2 separate regions of the Homo sapiens genome follow, and region 2 is linked to region 1. Evidence: fine-mapped expression QTL. Tissue or cell type: whole blood. Region 1 holds a variant in brackets; the other region holds the start of a gene. All regions are shown on one strand. Distances are between the middles of the regions.

Evidence for each region. PIP is the estimated chance that this variant, and not a neighbour inherited with it, causes the effect.
Region 2: ZNF501 starts here. The variant in region 1 is the best candidate, but not a certain one, in a credible set for the expression of ZNF501 in whole blood (TOPMed, PIP 0.55).

Annotation. Positions count from the first base shown.
Region 1 is chr3:44,783,262-44,794,660 of GRCh38, forward strand. KIF15 (kinesin family member 15) reads left to right here. Exons shown (of 35, transcript NM_020242.3): 6 at 1,584-1,681; 7 at 3,134-3,313; 8 at 10,956-11,165. Among named protein-coding and RNA genes, the nearest start is that of KIF15, 27 kb to the left of the region's middle. The variant A/C (reference allele first, on the strand shown) is at 5,888.
Region 2 is chr3:44,724,375-44,732,573 of GRCh38, forward strand. ZNF501 (zinc finger protein 501) reads left to right here and starts at 5,261. Exons shown (of 3, transcript NM_001258280.2): 1 at 5,261-5,641; 2 at 7,102-7,186. It overlaps LOC105377056 (a long non-coding RNA gene), which reads right to left and starts at 5,152. Exons shown (of 3, transcript XR_940788.4): 1 at 4,418-5,152; 2 at 1,305-1,496. RefSeq lists an enhancer at 5,072-5,141.

The DNA of each region.
Region 1 (11,399 bases):
TGCTCGGCTTCTGGTGAGGGCCTCATGCTGCTTCAACTCATGGCAGAAGACAAAGGGGAATGGGCATGCAGGGATTACATGGTGAGAGAGGAAAGTGAGAGAGAGAGAGAGACAAAGAGAGAGAGAGATGAGGAGGTGCCAGGCTCTCTCCAACAACTAGTTCTCTTGGGAAATAAGAGAACTCACTCCCATGAGAATGGCACCAAGCCTTTCATGAGGGGTTGTGCCCCCCACACTCCATGACCCAAAAATGTCCCAGCAGGCGACACCTCCAACAGTGGGGATCAAATTTCAACATGAGAATTGGGGCAAAACATACTATATCTTTATATAATATATTCTTCAATGGGAAAATGATGTAAAATTATCTACATGTTCTAATATTCATTCTCTTTATTTACTTGCATTTTTCTACCTCTGTTATATATTTCTTAAGCTACAGATTACAAGGACCATTTTAAATATTCCAGGTGTGGTACAAGGCCTTCTACCAAAGACAACTATTATATTTTAAAATTTATTCTCTATTTTTCTTGTGCATGTCAGCATTTTGTTAGTTCCTTTGGTCTCTAAGGCATACTTCACCAATATTTTGATTGTTAAATAGATCTAGATCTTTTCTAGCTATATATACTTTTCTGGTAAATATTGCTATAACTTGAATTAGAATTCCTTAGAATCCTGCTATTTGCATATCCACTCTTCCTTTTCCCAGTGTAACAAAATAGAGACTCTGCATTTTTCTGTCTATGTGGAAATCTTGTAAGATATTCTTACAGTACTTTTCTTACCAGCTTGGCTTTTATTGCCTAATTTTAAAAAAATCAACTAGCTAATCCTGATTTTTAGTACTTAATGTGTTTAAAGCACTAACATGGCTCTAAGTGCTTTACCTTTACACTCTCAGTTAATTCTTTCTTTTTGTTTTGAGACGGAGTCTCACTCTGTCGCCCAGGCTGGAGTGCAGTGGCGCCATCTCGGCTCACTGCAAGCTCCGCCTCCCAGGTTCACGCCATTCTCCTGCCTCAGCCTCTCCGAGTAGCTGGGACTACAGGCGCCCGCTACCACGCCCGGCTACTTTTTTTTTTGTATTTTTAGTAACGATGGGATTTCATCGTGATCTCGATCTCCTGAACTTGTGATCCGCCCGCCTCAGCTTCCCAAAGTGCTGGGATTACAAGCGTGAGCCACTGCGCCTGGCCTCTCAGTTAATTCTTTCCAATAACCCTATGTGATATTTATTACCATTATTATCCCCATTTTATAATTGAGAACTCTGCAGCTTAAGAGGGATTTAGTAATTAGCCTATGGTCACACAGTATGGGGCCAAGGCCTGGAGCACAGGTCAGTCTATGAGACCAAATGTGCTGCAATAAAGGACAATTATTTGATATTCCTGCAGATTTTGGTACCTGGCAGTTGGAAAAATTTCAATTTCTCTCACAGACCTAGATTTAACTTGCTTGGAGCACAAGTAGGAAACTGATTGTATGGTGTATCATCTAATTTCTGTGTAAATTGCCATTTTGAAAGACTCTTGGAATAGAATAAAAATCCAGTGTTTTTTTTTTCATTTTTTTAGGACCATCTGAATCTGATAATTTTTCTCATAACCTGAGAGGAGTAATCCCACGAAGTTTTGAATATTTGTTTTCCTTAATTGATCGTGAAAAAGAAAAGGTAAAACAATGTAAAAATAAAGTGGTTCTATGAAATGTCTAATTTTGAATAGGTAGCTACTGATAATTAGCTCATGATACATGGTGGAGCATGGATGGTACTCTACAATATGAATAGACTAGCGTGGCATAAAAAAAAACCTTTCAATTCTGAGGATAATATTAAGGATTCTGAGTTGTTTTATCTCAACTGAGTTTTTAGTTTATAAAACATGCATTATCCTTTATCCCAAATTGCTGGTTTACAAGAAAGGAAAATAGTGCTTCTGAGGCTCTCAAAAAAAGATTTTGTAAGAGAGAAACTGTAAAGAAAATCTCAACTGAGGAAAACAGATACATTAATACACTAAGCCTAATCATCTACCTGTACCTAGGCTCACAGGTGACTGCAGGTGTCCCTAAATCCTCATGACATCCAGCAGTGATGGACTCATCCTCACCACCTTTGTAGCACCTGCTACTGCCTTCCATGATCTTTGTGCTCCACATGTGGTATGGCTCCATCACCCTGGGGATATGGTCTTTCCTCTTGCATTGGCTCCCAGGTTGGGCCTTCTCACAGTTGTGCTGATTTAGCTTGGTGAATTCGGGGCTTAGAACCATTAGTGTTTTATGTTCCATTACTTGTGTACCAAAGAAATATATAACATTGGTTTACCATTTACTCCTTTGCAGAAATCACCTAACACTGAAATTAGACACACAAATTGTATGGCAGTGAAATAATTTAGTACCATGCATTTCTATGGTTAAAAATCCTATAAAGTCTTTTAAAATAAATTATTTTCAATCGTTTGAAGAACATAACACTTGCTTCAAATAAAACTTTATGAGGACATCAAATATATAAGACAGACAAAAATGGAATTTCCCAACTGGACTGCTCAATTCTCCTCCCCCTGTATTAGCTCCCAGGCACCTGTGGAGGCCTCTAGGGTGCCTGGCACCACAGTTTGATGCAGCTCTAAAATATAATGATGTGTTAAAACTAGTTATCAGCTGAGCACGGTGGCTCACGCCTGTAATCCCAGCACTTTGGGAGGCCGAGGCAAATCACGAGGTCAGGAGATCGAGACCATCCTGGCTAACACAGTGAAACCCCGTCTCTACTAAAAATACAAAAAATTAGCCGGGCGTGGTGGCGGGCACCTGTAGTCCCAGCTACTCGGGAGGCTGAGGCAGAAGAATGGCGTGAACCTGGGAGGCAGAGCTTGCAGTGAGCCAAGATCGCGCCACTGCACTGCAGCCTGGACAACAGAGTGAGACTCCATCTCAAACAAAACAAAAAAACTATTTATCTAGATTTTTTTTACTTTTAGGTATCTTATATTGTATTAAAGGATAATAGCATAGGAAATTTACATCTTGTGAAGCGAGTGCAAAATTAATGCTCATGAAAACTAGGTATGAACACATGAAAATAATGTATCTAAATGAGGCTTCTTTTTTACAGGCTGGAGCTGGAAAGAGTTTCCTTTGTAAGTGTTCCTTTATTGAAATCTACAACGAGCAGATATATGATCTACTGGACTCTGCATCGGCTGGACTGTACTTAAGGGAGCATATCAAGAAGGGAGTCTTTGTTGTTGGTGCGGTGGAGCAGGTGGTAACCTCAGCTGCTGAAGCCTATCAGGTACCCTGCCATGAGTACTTAATTGGTGCTTAGGCAACAAACCTGCTGTGAATGCACCCCAAACTCCAAAAAGTGACAATTGAGGTACCAAAAATATGTCATAAAGGCATAATACAGAATGTTCATGGGAAGTAAAGATAAAATAATATGGCAGTATTTTCTTTTCCAAGAGTCTTTCAAAATGGAACCTCGAAAGGGCAATTTATACAGAAATAAGATGATACATTGTATCATCAGTTTCTTACTTGTCCATATGTTTTTAGTGGTTCCTCCTGGGAGATGCCTGTTTGAGGGGCTTCTGGGAACTCTGGCCTTTAAACCAGCTGGCTGTTCTTTTCTACGTTGCTTGCTTGTTAGGTGTCAAAAGCTAACTTACCTTGAGCATTCAGCTCAGGACAAGCAAACCTCTTGACAGGAATTTACAAAATATTCTAGATATGTTTTTATGAAATCTGATCTGGCTTAATGATTTGAAAGTTTTTTATTATGAAGCATTTGACACATATGAAATATTGCCACAAGCATGTAAGTTACCAAGCATAATGTTAAAGTGAACTTTCAGGAGGCTTTTAGACAATTTAAAGACCCTGGTATCACCAGTACTATCCGATTTACTGGTGATATTTGGTTCTTTAAATATGCTATAAATAGGTAAATAGGATACCTGTCCTCCCTATCCCATATCCCTGGCTCTTCCCCAAAATTAAGCACTAAGTTGAATGTCATTATCATTTTCTTCCACTTTTAAATCACATATGTATGTGGTTTTGCCTGTTTTTGAGTTTGAAAAACACATATTTAGCTTTCTATGACTTTTAAAACTCAATGTGGTTTATGAAATCTACGTTGCATTTCATTTATTTTCACTGCTGTATGATATTTTATAATTTATTCTTTTATCTTCAATAAAAGATGGAATCAAGTCTCTTGATTCCAGCTGTTTAAATTGAGACTCCCCCCGGCGAGAGATAGGTTGTACATGTGACGTAGTATGTGTATACATACATACTCAAAAATTTGTGTTGGGTTTTTTATTGGAATTACATTGCAGTTATAGACCAGTCTGGAGGGATTAACAATTCTTTTTACAATGTTTTACAATATTCAGTCCATACATTAGCATAGTATGTCTCCTCTTTTTAGATCTTTAATGTCTTGCAATATAATTTTAATAATTTTCATCATAAAAGTCACACATACTTTTTGTTAACTTTATTCCAGTATACCTTATGTTTTTAGTTTCTCTAATAATCTCTTTCTTATTTTCATTTTTATTTATTTTTTTATTTGTTTTTTTGGAGACAGAATCTTGCTCTGTCACCCAGGCTGGAGTGCAGTGGTGCAATCTTGGCTCACTGCAACCTCCGCCTCCTAGGTTCAAGCAATTCTCGTGCCTTAGCCTCCCAAGTAGGTGAGACTACAGGCGCGCACTGCCATGCCTGGCTAATTTTTTGTATTTCAGGAGAGACGGTTTCACCATGTTGCCCAGGCTGGTCTTGAACTCCTGAGCTCAGGCAATCCACCTGCCTTGGCCTCCCAAAGTGCTAGGATTATAGGCATGAGCTACCGTGCCCGGCACATAATCTCTTTTTTAAATTACATTTAGTGTTTGGTGTGTATAGAAATGCAGTTGATTTTTATAAGATGCTTTTATAATCAGCCACCTTGCTGTCTTAAAAAATCAAGAATGTGTGTTAAAGTTTTGTTTGATGCTTTTTCCACCATTGTTGAGATAATCTTGTGCTTTTTCTTCTTTAACATGTTAACACGATAAAGTACTCGATTAAGATTTGCTATTATTTTGTTTAGTGTTTTTCATAAATTTAAAAAATTGAGATCAATCTGTAATTTCCTTTGTCCTATTCCTTTTTTCTTTTTTTCTTTTTCTTTTTTTTTTGAGACAGGGTCTCGCTCTGTCACCCAGGCCAGAGTACAAGTGGCAGAATCATGGTTCACTGCAGCCTTGACCTCCTGGGCTTAACAGATCCTCCCACCTCAGCCTCCCTAGTAGCTGAGACTGCAAGTGCACAGCATTATGTCTGGCTGATTTTTGAATGTTTTTGTAGAGATGAGGTTTAGCCATGTTGTCCAGGCCAGTCTTGAACTCCTGGGCTCAAGCATTTCACCTTGCCTCAGCCTCCCACTATAGGCGTGAGACACTGCACCTGGCCCTATTCTCTTTGTCTTGTTTTATTATCAATGTTACTTGTTTTCTGAAAGTATTTGTGCCTGGGATGACTTATTCTTAGAATACATAGTAGAACTCATCTGAAAAATTATCTGGGTCTTGTGAGATTTTTAACTACAAAACAATATTTTAATAGAGCCATGCAGCCATGTTATTTCTTCTTGGGTCAGTGTTAGTAAGTTATGTATTTTAGAAAAATTTCAATTTCCTCTTAGTTTTCAAGTATATTGGCATAAAGTTGTTCCTAGTATTCACATTTTTACAATCTTTGCCATACTGCCATTCTGTTTCCTTTTTACACAGTTGTTATTGTTTATATGGACTTGCTCTTTAATATTTTCTTTGTTTTCAGTTTATCCTGGGTTTATCATGCTGTTCTTTTTCCA[A/C]CTTCTTAAGCTGGATGTTTACTCACGTTGGCATTTCTTTTGTGATATAAGTATTTAATACTATAAATTTTTACTTCTTAATACTTCTTTAACTTCACACAAGTTTTAATATTTTAATTACGGTGTAGATCCAAATATTTTTCTACTATAATTTTTTTTGACTCATGAATTACTTAGAAATGTGATTTTAAATTCCAAAGCGTGTGAGGATTTCTAACTTATTTCTCACATTGATTCTCAATTGCATTGGGATCGAAGAATGTGGTCTTATGTGACATCTAGTCTTTGAGTTTTTTTTGAGACATAATTTATGGATTAATAACCTTTTTCTTAAGTGTGTCATGTGTGCTTGAGAAGAATATGTATCCTTGGTACAAGGTTTTATATTTTTGCTAGTTTTCTTGTCCGTGTAATCTATTGATACTTCAGAGAGATGCACTGATTTCCCACTAAGGTGTTGGTTTTTCAGTTTCATTGCGATTTTTGTCTAATTTTATATATATATATATATATATATATATATATATATATATATATATATATAAAATAGATACATACACATATGGAAACACAACAAGTCCTCACTTAACATCCTTATAGGTTCTTGGAAACTGACTTTAAGTGAAACGATGTATAATAAAACCAATTTTACTACAGGCTAATTGATACAAAGAAGAGTTAAGTTCCTACTGCATATTTCCAGTCATAAAAGCATCACCAAACTTCTCAATAAGAACCCAACACACTTCTAATATTAAACATTGAAATAAATGTCAACTATACATTTATTTTAAAAAGAATAATAACAACTAAGATAATTATTTACCCAGGTTTTGGTGGATAAGTGAGTGATGGCAGTCATGGTGTTGGGTTAAATCGGGAATAAATGTTTGCAAAGTAGAAATTGTCAGGAGCACTTCCTACCACCATACAGTTCAGAAACAAACAATAACAAATATGGCGGGCTCACTGAGTACTTTCATACTGCATTGTTTATTGTCCTGTATTTGTATGAGTATCATATACTTTATGACATTTTTTTTTTTTGAGACGGAGTCTCACTCTCTCTCCAAGGCTAGAGTGTAGTGGTGCGATCTTGGCTTACTTCAACCTCTGCCTCCTGGGTTCAAACGATTCTTGTGCCTCAGCCTCCTGAGCAGCTAGGACTACAGGCTTGTGCCACCACACCCGGCTAAATTTTTGTATTTTTATTAGAGATGGGGTTTTGTCATGTTGGCCGGGCTGGTCTTTACACAGACAGTTGCCCCGGGTGGAAATCATTTTATTTTCTCAAGTTCACAACAAAATAACACTGAATGAAGTGAAATGGAGGACCTGCTGTGGACTCCTTTATTAGGTATATATACAAGTGTAGAATTAGTATATATCTTCCTTTTATTTTCACCTATAATTATTTATTGATTCTGTACTTTCCTATCAACACATTTTGCTTTACAAATCTGTTTTGTCTGATGTTCACCTACCACTGAACATTCTTTTGATTACCATTTGCCTGGTATACGTTTTCCCATCAGTTTTTCTGTTTCTTTTTTTTTTTTTTTTTTTTTTGAGTCTCGCTCTGTCGCCAGGCTAGAGTGCAGTGGCATGATCTCGGCTCACTGCAACCTCTGCCTCCCAGGTTCAAGCTATTCTCCTGCCCCAGCCTCCCGAGTAGCTGGGACTACAGGCATGCGCCACCACGCCCTGTTAATTTTTGTATTTTTAGTAGAGATGAGGTTGGCCAGGATGGTCTCTATCTCTTGACCCCGTGATCTGCCTGCCTCGGCCTCCCAAAGTGCTGGGATTACAGGCGCGAGCCACTGGGCCCGGCCCCTTCTGTTTCTTAATGTTTTAGGTGTTTATTGTAAACCACATAGCTATACTTTGCTCGTTTTTTTAACTGCTCATGACAGTACCTTACCTAATTTATTTACATTACTATATGATTGTTGATATTCTTAGACTGGTTTCTACCATCTTTCTTAGTGTGTTTTGCCTGTTTCATCTAATACTTCCTTCTCTTTTCTTGCCTTTTTGTTTTTGATCCAGTATGCAGCATGATTTATTGAAAAAAACTCTTTTTCCTATTACATTGCCTTTGCATCTTTGGTGAATTGACTGTACACATATGGGTTTATATCTAACTGTATTCTGTTCTGTTGATCTATATGTTTCTTTTCATCAATATTAAATGGTCTTGATTATTATATAACTTGTTGCTAAGTAGTGTCTTTAGATCAGGTAGGGTAAGTCCTCCAACACTGTTCTTTTTAACAATTATTTTGGTTATTCATTGTCCTTTGCATTTTCATTTACATAGAACCAGTTTGTCAATTTCTACAAAATAGGCTGCTGGGATTTTGAGTGGGGTTGTGTTGAATCTATCAATTATTTTTGGTAGAACTGGCATCTTAACAATATTGAGTCTCCCAATCTATGAACACTCACCAGGTATTTTTGTTTTTGATTTTTTATTTTGATTTTTGTAGAAGTATTCAGGCAAACATGCTTGTATTTGCTTTTTCCCCTTATGTTACACAAGTGACAGCATACTGTGCTATTTTTATACCTTGCCTTTTTTATTTTGGAGACCAAGTCTCGCTGTTTTGCCCAGGCTGGAGTGCAATGGCATGATCTCAGCTCAATGCAACCTCCACCTCCTGGGTTCAAGAGATTCTCCTGCCTCAGCCTCCCGAGTAGTTGGGATTATAGCTGTCTGCCACCACGCCCAGCTAAATTTTGTATTTTTTAGTAGAGACGGGGTTTCACCATGTTGGTCAGGCTGGTCTTGAACTCCTGACCTCAGGTAATCCACCTGCCTTGGCCTCCCAAAGTGCTGGGATTACAGGCGTGAGCCATAGTGCCCGGCCGCTTTTTTTAGATAATAGTATTTTGGAATTTGTCTCAGTTTGGAGGATCTCTCTCTCTCTCTTGTTTTTTGTAGCTGTATGAATGTATCAGATGTATTTAATATGTAATATACAGTATTTAATGTTATAAAAAGAAAGCATAAAGTACTATCCAAGAAACATAACAGATACAAATAGCTGGGCGCAGTGGCTTACTCCTGTAATCCCAGCCTCTTTGGGAGGCCAAGGTGGTGGATCACTTGAGGTCAGGAGTTCAAGACCAGCCTGGCCAACATGATGAAACCCTGTCTCTATTAAAAATACAAAAAAATTAGGCATGGTGATGCATGCCTGTACTCCCACCTACTCTGGAGGCTGAGGTGGGAGGATCATTTGAGCCTGGGAGGCAGAGATTTCAGTGAGACATGAACATGTCACTACACTCCAGCCTGGGTAACAAAGTGAGACTCTGTCTTAAAAAAAAGAAAAAAGATACAAATAATTTCAGTTTTATACTGTTGCTGATTAATAGGGTTATAACAGCTACGAATTTTTTTTTTTTTTTTGTGATGAGACAGAGTCTCTGTTGCCCAGGCTGGAGCGGAATGGCCCGATCTTGGCTCACTGCAACTTCTACCTCCCGGGTTCAAGCGATTCTCCTGCCTCAGCCTCCCGAGTAGCTGGGACTACAGGTGCATGCCACCACACCCGGCTAATTTTTTATATTTTTAGCGGAGACGGGGTTTCACCGTGTTAGCCAGACTGGTCTCGGTCTCCTGACCTCATGATCCACCCACCTGGGCCTCCCAAAGTGCTGGAATTACAGGCGTGAGCCACCGTGCCCTGCCAACAGCTATGATTTATTGAGTGAAGGTGCCAAGCACTGTGCTAACTTCTTTTGTATACATTATTTTACTTAATTTTCAATATGCCCTTTGAGATAAAGACACTAATTTCCCCATTTTACCCTATATATACTGTTACCCTCCTACCCAAAATGTGGTCCTCAGAACATCAGCATCACCTGAGAGCTTGTTAGAAATGCAAAATCTCAGGCCCCACCTCACACTGAATCTGAATCTGAATTTTAACAACATCTGTAGATGATTCATATGCACCTAAAACTTATATGTTCTGTTCTATGGGATAGGTACCCATATTCCCATTTTACAAATATGAAGGCTGAGGCTTGAAAAGGTTCAGCTGGCCCCAGACCTCGCCTAGTAAATAGTGGAGCCATGGTTTGAACTCATATGCATCTGATTCCAGAGCCTGCATTCTGAACTTTCATGTATCCTGCTTGCCATAGGGAATAGAAGGGAAAAAATACTTTGTAGACCAAAAGCTTACAAAACTTTGGGCTTAAAGATAATTTACAGATTTTTCCTGTCCAACATTCTCATTTTCTAGGTAAAGAAATGGGTTCAGAGAGGTTTTGTGATTTACATTAGGTTAACACAAATAAAGCGTGGCAAAACCAGTTCTAGATCCTATGCGCTCTGATTTCCTGTTTGTTCTGTTTCTGTAATGTGGAAAGGGAACACAAAGGAAAGGAAAATAACTTCAGCTTATTCCTTAATGGACCAGTAATCTTTCTCACCACCCTTTACAAATTTCCTACTGATTTTGGTGGCTGTTGTGTACCATTTGGAACTTGGGATAATATAATTTATCTTATAAAGCTAGATAACAATGGAAGGCAATAGATACTCCTCACCCCTGTTCTAAATAGAAAATATGCTTTATGTAAATATATTTCTTTTTCCCTATGAAAGTAGATAATTAGCTGTATGTTAGTATTTTTCATAATAAAATGAGTGATTCTCAAGTGCTTATTTTACATTTTAAGTGTACCTATTCTTGTTCCTTTTTTTTTCTCTTTTCCTTTTTTTTTTTTTTTTAAGATAGGATCTTGCCCTGCTGCTCAGGCTGGAGTGCAGTGGCACAATCATGGCTCACTGCAGCCTTGAATTCCTGGGCTCAAGAGATCTTCCCACCTCAGCCTCCCGAGTAGCTAGGACTACAGGTTCCTGCCACTGTACATAGCAAATTATTATTTTTTGTAGAGGTGAGGTCTCACACTATGTAGGTCAGGCTGGTCTTGAATTCCTATCCACAAGTGATCCTCCAGACATGGCCTCCCAAACTGCTAGGATTACAGGCATAAGCCACTGTAACTGGTCCTCTCATTTCTTTTAATATGTTTTCCTTTTGCATAGGTGTTGTCTGGAGGATGGAGGAATAGACGTGTGGCATCAACATCAATGAACAGAGAATCGTCTAGGTCTCATGCCGTCTTTACAATTACAATAGAGTCAATGGAGAAAAGTAATGAGATTGTGAATATACGGACCTCCCTACTCAACCTGGTGGATTTAGCAGGATCTGAAAGGCAAAAAGATACCCATGCAGAAGGGATGAGATTGAAGGTAAGAATGAAATTATGGTCTTCAACTTGTGTGTGAGTTCTTACTAGCAGTCAATACAGTCGTGATGCATGACAGTGTCTCAGTCAATGAGGAACTGCATTTATGATGGGGGTCCCTTAAGAGTATAATAGCTATACCACATGGCTTAGGTATGTTGTAGGCTATACCATCTCGGTTTGCATAAGTATATTCTATGATGCCCACAAAACAATCAAATTTCCTAACAGCACATTT
Region 2 (8,199 bases), 60 kb before region 1:
AACCTGGGAGGTGGAGGCTGCAGCCAGCCGAGATTGTGCCTGTGCACTCCAGCCTGGGAGACAGAGTGAGACTTTTTCTAGAAAAAAAAAAAAAAATGATATCCATAAGTTCTTGTGGGAAAGATTTTCTCAAGTGAAACAGACTTGATCCTGAATTTTTCTCAGGCTGAGAAAATATGGCATGTTTTTACCTTCTGGGGAAACAGTTAAATAACTGTTCTTTCCACTACCCTGACCCCATATTCTTACACTTGGACTTATGTGCTCCCGATTTTCTCTCAGTTGCTGGCCCATGATGTACCTAGTCTCTCCAGCATGGCCCCAAACCTAGTCATTGCCCTCACCCTCAGTTTTCCCTCTTATTCAATCTTCATATCCATTCAACCACTATGTCCTGTTGAAGTTATCTCCTATCTCTGGAAGCCATCTCCACTGCAGTTATTGTAGTCCAGTCCCCTACTCCCTAATTTATTTTCTAGACTATTTTATTTTTAATTTTAATTTTTTTTTTTTGAGACAGGATCTCACTCTGTTGTCCAGGCTGGAATGCAATGGCATGGTCTCTGCTTACTGCAAACCCCCACCTCCCAGGCTCAAGCGATCCTCCCATTTCAGCCTCCCAAATAGCTGGGACTACAGGCATGTGCCACTATCCTTGGCTAATTTTTATATTTTTTTGTAGTGATGGGTTTCACCATGTTGCTCAGGCTGGTCTCGGACTCCTGGGCTCAAGCAATCTGCCTGCCTCAGCCACCCAAAGTGCTGGGATTATAGGCATAAGCCACTGTGCCTGGACTTCCTATTTTAAAATTTATCTACCAGTCTTCCAGTTTCTTGCCCCACTAGGCCATCTTTCACATTTCTTCTTGATCTTTATAAGCATAACTGGCTGCTTATTGTTTTCGGAATAAAGCACTAGTCCTTTAAAGAGGCAGGTGAGGCCCCTCATCTGACCCATGCCTGAATTGCCATCCTTAGCTGCCATTCCTTGCCTGGCATGTTCTATTCCATAGTTCAAATTCCTGTGATTCTGGAATATCACCTCTGGACTCTATTTTGGCACTTCCGCACATAGTGTTCCTATTGCCTCAGTTCCTTTTCCCTGCTTCTGCTTGCCTGCAAAACTCCCATTTTTCACTTACGAGTGTGCTCAGGCAATATCTCAAAGCTGTCTCTAACCTCATGTATTTTTTATTCTGTCTTGTATTTTTCATCATTTTATTATGTTACATTATAATGGTTTGTTCACACATCTTTCCCTTTGTCAGCTTTGCTAGGGAAGGAACAATGTGAAATTTCTTTACCTTTGTATCAACAGTGCCTGGTACTTAGGAGGTGCTCAATAAGCATTTGTTGAACTCAACTGAAGAGTCAGACATTTCTCTGTGCTAGTCTGCAGGTTGTGACTTAAGTCCCCAGTTGTCAGCAGGAAGGAGGCATGGTGAGTATGCGTGTCCACGAAGTGTCTGCCAGGAGCAACAGTTCTGAAACTTTCCCTAAGATTGTATTAAACAGAAGATCCCATAAGAAACAATATTTTTCAATTAGAGATTTAAAAGTCCTATCACAATTTAACTAAACGCTTTCAATTATATTGATGTCAGGGTCAACAGGAGGAAAATGCATGCAACTGCAGAAACACACCTGTGTCAACTGGAATACCTATGAAATAGCAGGAACTGAAGAGTAATGCTGGCCTAGCAGGAGGGCATTTGCAGTTTACAAATCCCAAACTGGGCCAGGCATGGTGGCTTGCACCTGTAATCCCAACTACTCAGGAGTCTGAGGTGGGAGGATTGATTCAGGCCAGGAGTTCAAGAGCATCCTGTGGAACATAACAAGACCTTGTCTAAAAAAAATAAATAAATAAATAAATAAATAAATAAATAAACCAGGTATGGTGGTGCATGCCTGTAGTCCTAGCTATTCTGGATGCTGAGCCTGAGGTGGAAGGATCGCTTGAGCCCAGGTGTTGGGAGCTGCAGTGAGCTAGCATCATGCCACTGCACTCTAGCCTGCGTATCAGAGAGTGAGACCCTCTCTCTTAAAAAAAAAAAAAAAAAAAAAAAAAAAAAAAAAAAAAGTACCAAAGTGGAAGCACTTCCTGAGATTTTGGGCCCTGGGATGATAAAGAATTTGAGTGTCTTGCTTATTGTGCACTGAAATTTAATTCATGACTTTAGAAGGACACAGATGGAGCCACGTCAGATCCTCAGAACAAAAGAGAAAAGATGTTGGGGTTGCTCAAGACCACACAACCAGTGTCAGATGAGGTTTAAACTGCAGTGTCCTTGCATTTCATTTACTTTTCCCTGTATTGGTCATACCTCTATTCCATATGCCTCTTTATTTTTTATAGAACTGACTACTTTTTTTTGTTTCTGAGATGGTTTCGGTCTGTTGCCCAGGCTGGAGTGCAGTAGCGTGATCCTAGCTCACTGTAGCCTAGACCTCCCAGGCTCAAGCGATTCTCTCACCTCAGCCTCCCAAGCAGTTGGGACTACAGGCGTGAGCTACCATGCCTGGCTAATTTTTAAAAAGTATTCTCTGGCCGGGTGCGGTGGCTCACGCCTGTAATCCCAGCACTTTGGGAGGCCAAGGCAGGCGGATCACAAGGTCAGGAGTTTGAGACCAGCCTGACCAACATGGTGAAACCCCGTCTCTACTAAAAATATGAAAATTAGCCAGGCATGGTGGCGCGTGCCTGTAATCCCAGCTACTAAGGAGACTGAGGCAGGAGAATTGCTTGAACCCAGGAGGCAGAGGTTGCAGTGAGCCAAGATCATGCCACTGCACTCCAGCCTGGGTGACAGAGTGAGAGTCTGTCTCAAAAAAAAGTTTTTTAATATTATTTTTTGGTACAGACAGATTCTTGCTATGTTACCCAGGCTCATCTCTAACTCCTGCCCTCAGATGATCCTCCTAACTCGGACTCCCTTACAGGCCTGAGCCACTGCATCCAGCCTAGAATTGACCACTTAGTGCTCCAATCTTTTCCTTATCCTGAGGATGTGAGGAGCTCACTTGTATAAGATTGAGAAGCTTTTTGTTCTCAAAATCTCAGACTTTCCTGAGTGTGAGGGTGACAAGTAAGTTGATGATACCTTTTGACCCCTACTTTCTACATAAGGTAGAAACCTAATCTTGACGATATGTGGCATTAGTTTCATTTATCCAGTGGCCACATCAGGGCTAAGGTTATTTTAGTGTTTTGGAACGTTTTTGGTGTCCATCCCTACCATCCGTTTTCCACCTCATTGAAAGAAGCTCAGCCCAAACTGCTATTAAACTCCAGATTACGGTTTCTAGTAACCTCAGGTGCCTCCCTCCAGACTTAATGTCCTCCACACACTACACCCTGCTGATTTGGAGACTCTTTGAAGCCTAATGTTTGGGGAATGAATAATTAGACCTAGGGTCTCTGGCCTGTGAGATGTTAGGGCTGGAGGGAAGAACTTGCTATCTGATTCCAAAGAAGTGCTGAGAATGTGACACCTGGAGAGGGAAACTTAACATTATTGTTACATGGCATGTCAACTGACAATTTTACAAAGGGTCACTTTTTAGCCAAAGATAGCGATGGCCTCAGTCTGTGGCACCAGCATTCCTGATTTGTGTCCAAAAGGGACTCCATTTTGGGAAAACAGCCAATCTGAAGATTGGAATGGATATTTTTTTTTTTTTTTAAGATGGAGTCTGGCTCTGTCACCCAGGCTGGAGTGCAGTGGCATGATCTCGGCTCACTGCAAGTCCGCCTCCCAGGTTCAAGTGATTCTCCTGCCTCACCCTCCTGAGTAGCTGGGATTACAGGGGCACACCACCACGCCCGGCTAATTTTTGTATCTTTAGTAGAGACGGGGTTTCGCCATGTTGGTCAGGCTGGTCTCAAACTCCTGACCTCGTGATCCGCCCCCCATGGCCTCCCAAAGTGCTGGGATTACAGGTGTGAGCCACCATGCCTGGCCTGGAATGGATAATTTCTCTGCTGCATCTCATTAATTTATACAGCAAGTGTTCACTTCTATATGCTGCACACTAGGGATATGATGGTGTGCACACAGCCCTATTGTCCTGAGATTGCAGATCAGTAGGAATGCTTGGAAGTGAATAAGGTACTCTCCACTCATGCCTTTATCTCTGGACTTTACCTGTCAAGATGAGCCCATGTGTGCAAATATTTCCTGAGTTAGAGCCAGCAAGATCTGAAGTTTTGTAGAAAGGGATGGGTGTGCTACCTTGAGGCCCTGAAAGGTCAGTGAAGTCAGGGCAGAACAATAGGTACTGGAGCTGGGATTTGAGACACAGACAATAGTCCTAACATTTACTGAAGATTTAAAAAATACTAGATGTTCTTAGTAATTCACACGTATTAACCTCACTTAATCCTCACAACAACCCTGTGGTACCATTATTATACCTGGTAAGTGAGGAAGCAGGCACAGAGAGGTAAAGTTGCAAAGTTCATACACTGAGAATCAGGGATTTGAGCCCAAAGCAGTGTTTGATTTGTTTTGTTTTGTTTTTGAGACAGAGTCTCACTCTATCACCCAAGCTGGAGTGCAGTGGCTCAGTCTCTGCTCACTGCAACCTCCCCCTCCCAGGTTCAAGTGATTCTCGCGCCTCAGCCTCCGGAGTAGCTGGAATTACAGGCGCCCACCAGCACACCCGGCTGATTTTTGTATTTTTAGTAGAGACAGGGTTTCTCCATGTTGGGCAGGCTGGTCTTGAACTCCTGACCTCAGGTGATCCGCCCGCCTCGGCCTCCCAAAGTGCTGGGATTACAGGAGTGAGCCACCGCGCCTGGCCTGCAGAACTTTTTCTTTTGGCCACCTGAACAAAGATCCTGGGTCAGTAAGGTGTCAGGGGTTTCTGTGAAGAGGTCAGTTTTCTTCCAGATGAGGATGTGTGTGAGGAAGGTGGAAGCCAGTTTTGTGAAAAGCCTTGAGAATCCCCAAAGGACAGTAACATAGGAAGCTAAATGTGGCGGACTTGCAGGATGAACTGATGCACAGTAAGAGCTCCTTGTGGTCGACCCTTCTGACTTCCATCCCGTTTCCCTGTGCTGGAAGACGCACGCCAGGTGGGGTCGCAGGTTGTTTCTGGTGCCGGCTTAACCGGCGCAGCACCGAAACCCGTAGCTGCGTGCGGGAAGGAACCACCGAGCGGAAGCCGCTCCCACCTTCCTAGAGAGGAGACGGTAGTGGTTATTAGCCGAGGCGCGGACTGCTGACGTCACGCCGGCTGGGCGCGTCCGGGACTTACTCCTTTCCGCAGGGCAGCACCCAGGGACCTGAGTGTTGCAAGGTGCGAGAGGGGAGCGCCGCGGGGAGCGCCGCGGGAAGCGCATGGTGAGCGGTTTCTGCTGTGCCCGGCTGCCGCGGGTCGATTCCAGCTCCTCCCTCGGGAAGCAGGGCGTTTTTCTTCCTGGAGGGCCTGTGGAGCGGAGGCCCGAGGCCTAGGGCAAACTTGCCATGAAGAAAGGAGAGGCTGTTCGAGAGCCCTAGGCTGGGAGTCGGAGGACCTGGGTTCGATTTATACATACTTAAGCATGTCAGTGAACTTCTGGGCACTTTAGTTTTCTGATTTCCAGAAGTAAATACTGTTTCCTGCCTTGCCGTTTCCCAAAGTTGTGCGGGTTGAAGTAAGTATATGCAAGAATTAGTGCCTTCCCTTCATTATTTATTCTTCTCTAACAACAACAAAATAGGTACCGTATGAAGACATGTAGACTCAATACTTTAACAGCAGGCACTATTTATTGAATGCTTACCAGCTGGCATTCTTCTAAGTAGTTGCCATGTAGTAACCCACTTATTCATTACGACAACCCTATAAAGTAGTTACTGGTATCGTCTCCATTTAACAGTTGAAAAAACTGGAGCAAAAAAAGGTTAGGTAACTTGTTCAAAAGTCCTAGTCCTGGAGCCCATGCCATACTTGTAAGTTTGCTGGTGGAAGACAGAATGTAATCAGACTAGAAAGTCCTACAGTAGAAACTTGTAAAATTCTTTGAGAATGTAGACGAGGAAGGGCCTTGGAAAAGTCAAAATTTTCCCACAAGGAAGAGGTGTGAAGTTTCACATTTGAGCTAAATATTAAAGGTTGACTGCAAGCTTGAAAATAATTGCTGGCTTATTTGACCAAATGAGGAAATAAAAGAGACGTTTGAAAATAATTAAACAGTTTGTTCAGTGTCAGTTAAGAGATGCTAGTGGATTGGGATGTATTAGACAGGAAACCAGGTTCCTGCCTTTGAATACAGTGTTCTTTGCATTAGGAGGGTTCTTGAAACCTTTCCCTTATGAAGAGTCCTTAACATCTTACAGCAGATACTCCTTACACAAAGGCAATCCTCTTGTTATTTTCGAGAAATTCCCCCAATTCTAATTGTAGGAGGATAACTGACAGGAAGTTTCCCTGCTGTTGATTCAGCCCGTTCTTAACAAGACCCATTCACCTCACGGCTAGCTCATTTAGTACTTTTCAAATAAATGAATAAACAGATTCAATCAAAGATGGACTGGAAGGGCTTGATTTGAGGTTTTTGCTCTTTTCCCATCTGTATATAGAATCAAAGCTTTGTAGAATGTTGATATTACAAGAAGCTTTAAATATTATCTAGCTTTTCAATTTCATTTAACAAATAAGAAATGGATGAGACTGAGTGACCTGTGTTAGGTCATTGAACAAATTGGTGGCAGAGCTGAGACTAGAATCCACACCTCTTGACTGAGTCCATTACTGGTCCTACTGCCCTCTATTGTAGCCCTGCAGCATTTGACTTTTGAAATCAATGGCTTTTCCAGTAGACTTAGGGGAGCCATTGGGCTCCAACCTGATGTCGTATAAAGAAATTTTTACGCCCAGATGCTTAGTCCTAGGAAGGACCTGCCCTCTTTGTACATTGTCACATCTCTCTGAAGTCTGCCAACTCACTAATTTTTGTCACTGGAGATACTCCTCTAGGATAATAACGATATTCTTTCATTTGAACTTAAAATGGTCATTTGGTTAGAGATGGGATGTTCTTGAGTTACCCTGAATCTAGAAGGTGTAGGAAGTAGGCTGGCAATTTATGAGTGGCTCTTTTTCCTCCCTCAGTGCCTCAAATTCCTGCCTTTCCTCAAGAGAAGAGCCCCCAGGAGAAAAGCCAGTATTGCTTGTGCTCCTAACAACCTGTCTCTTGGTAAGTTAACTCTAACTAGAGAGCCCAGGATGGTGGTGGTTGTGAGACTACCATCAGAAGTGATGGCAGACCTATGGTGGGACCCACCAATGTCCACTAAATGTGGACCCAGCAGAAAATGCAGGACCACACAGAAATGGATACCATTTTACTCAAATCAGTGAGGGTGGCCCACTGTGAAAACGGCTATGGAATAATTGGTTATGGGACAGGTCCTAGAGTGCACTAAGTTCTTATCAGAGTACCTGAACTGAAGACTCTACAGTCATCTGGTAGCACATCTTTAAACCACTTATTGAACTGCTCAGTATGATGCCTTAATGGTGTAGTGGTTGGATCAAGGAATATGGGTAGTAAATTATTGGAAAACCCATTGCAAATGTGATTAGGTATTTCCTCAGAGAATATGGAATGGGCTTCTGGCCATGTTTAGAACAAGAGCTTAAGTTATTGCAGCTGACATTGTCACTGGCAATCAAAAGGCAACATGGAGCCTGGGTGTCTGTCAAACTCAGTAAAATAATTCTGGGTAAATTGTATTCTTAGGTTATGGGAACTCTGTGAAGAGAATATGACTGTGTCCTGAAGAATTTGGATTAGTTTAATATGTATGCATAATATATGTACACTTATGTACGTATTTATGTTTATATGCATCAAGAGATACCTAGAAGAAGGTCCATTAAAATACTATTATTTTCTGTGGCTGGGTTTCAAGTGATTTCCTCTTCGGAGTAGCTGACCATTTAATAGAATGAGCATGCATTCTTTGTATGATAAGAAAAAAACCTTTTTATTTTGGAAAAATGAGAGTAAAGGAATTAAAAATGTGCTTAGAGTTTTGGTTTTACATCTGGTTGCTTAAACCAACTGGAGTTTGTTTTTGTATATAGCATATCCATGTTGTAAGTTAATACATCAGATAAAGATAGGTTTAGGTAAGATAGTCCACATATTTAACAAACAGTATGGTACAGGCATTGCCCAAGCAGGTAGTCGTGAACAATTTGTAC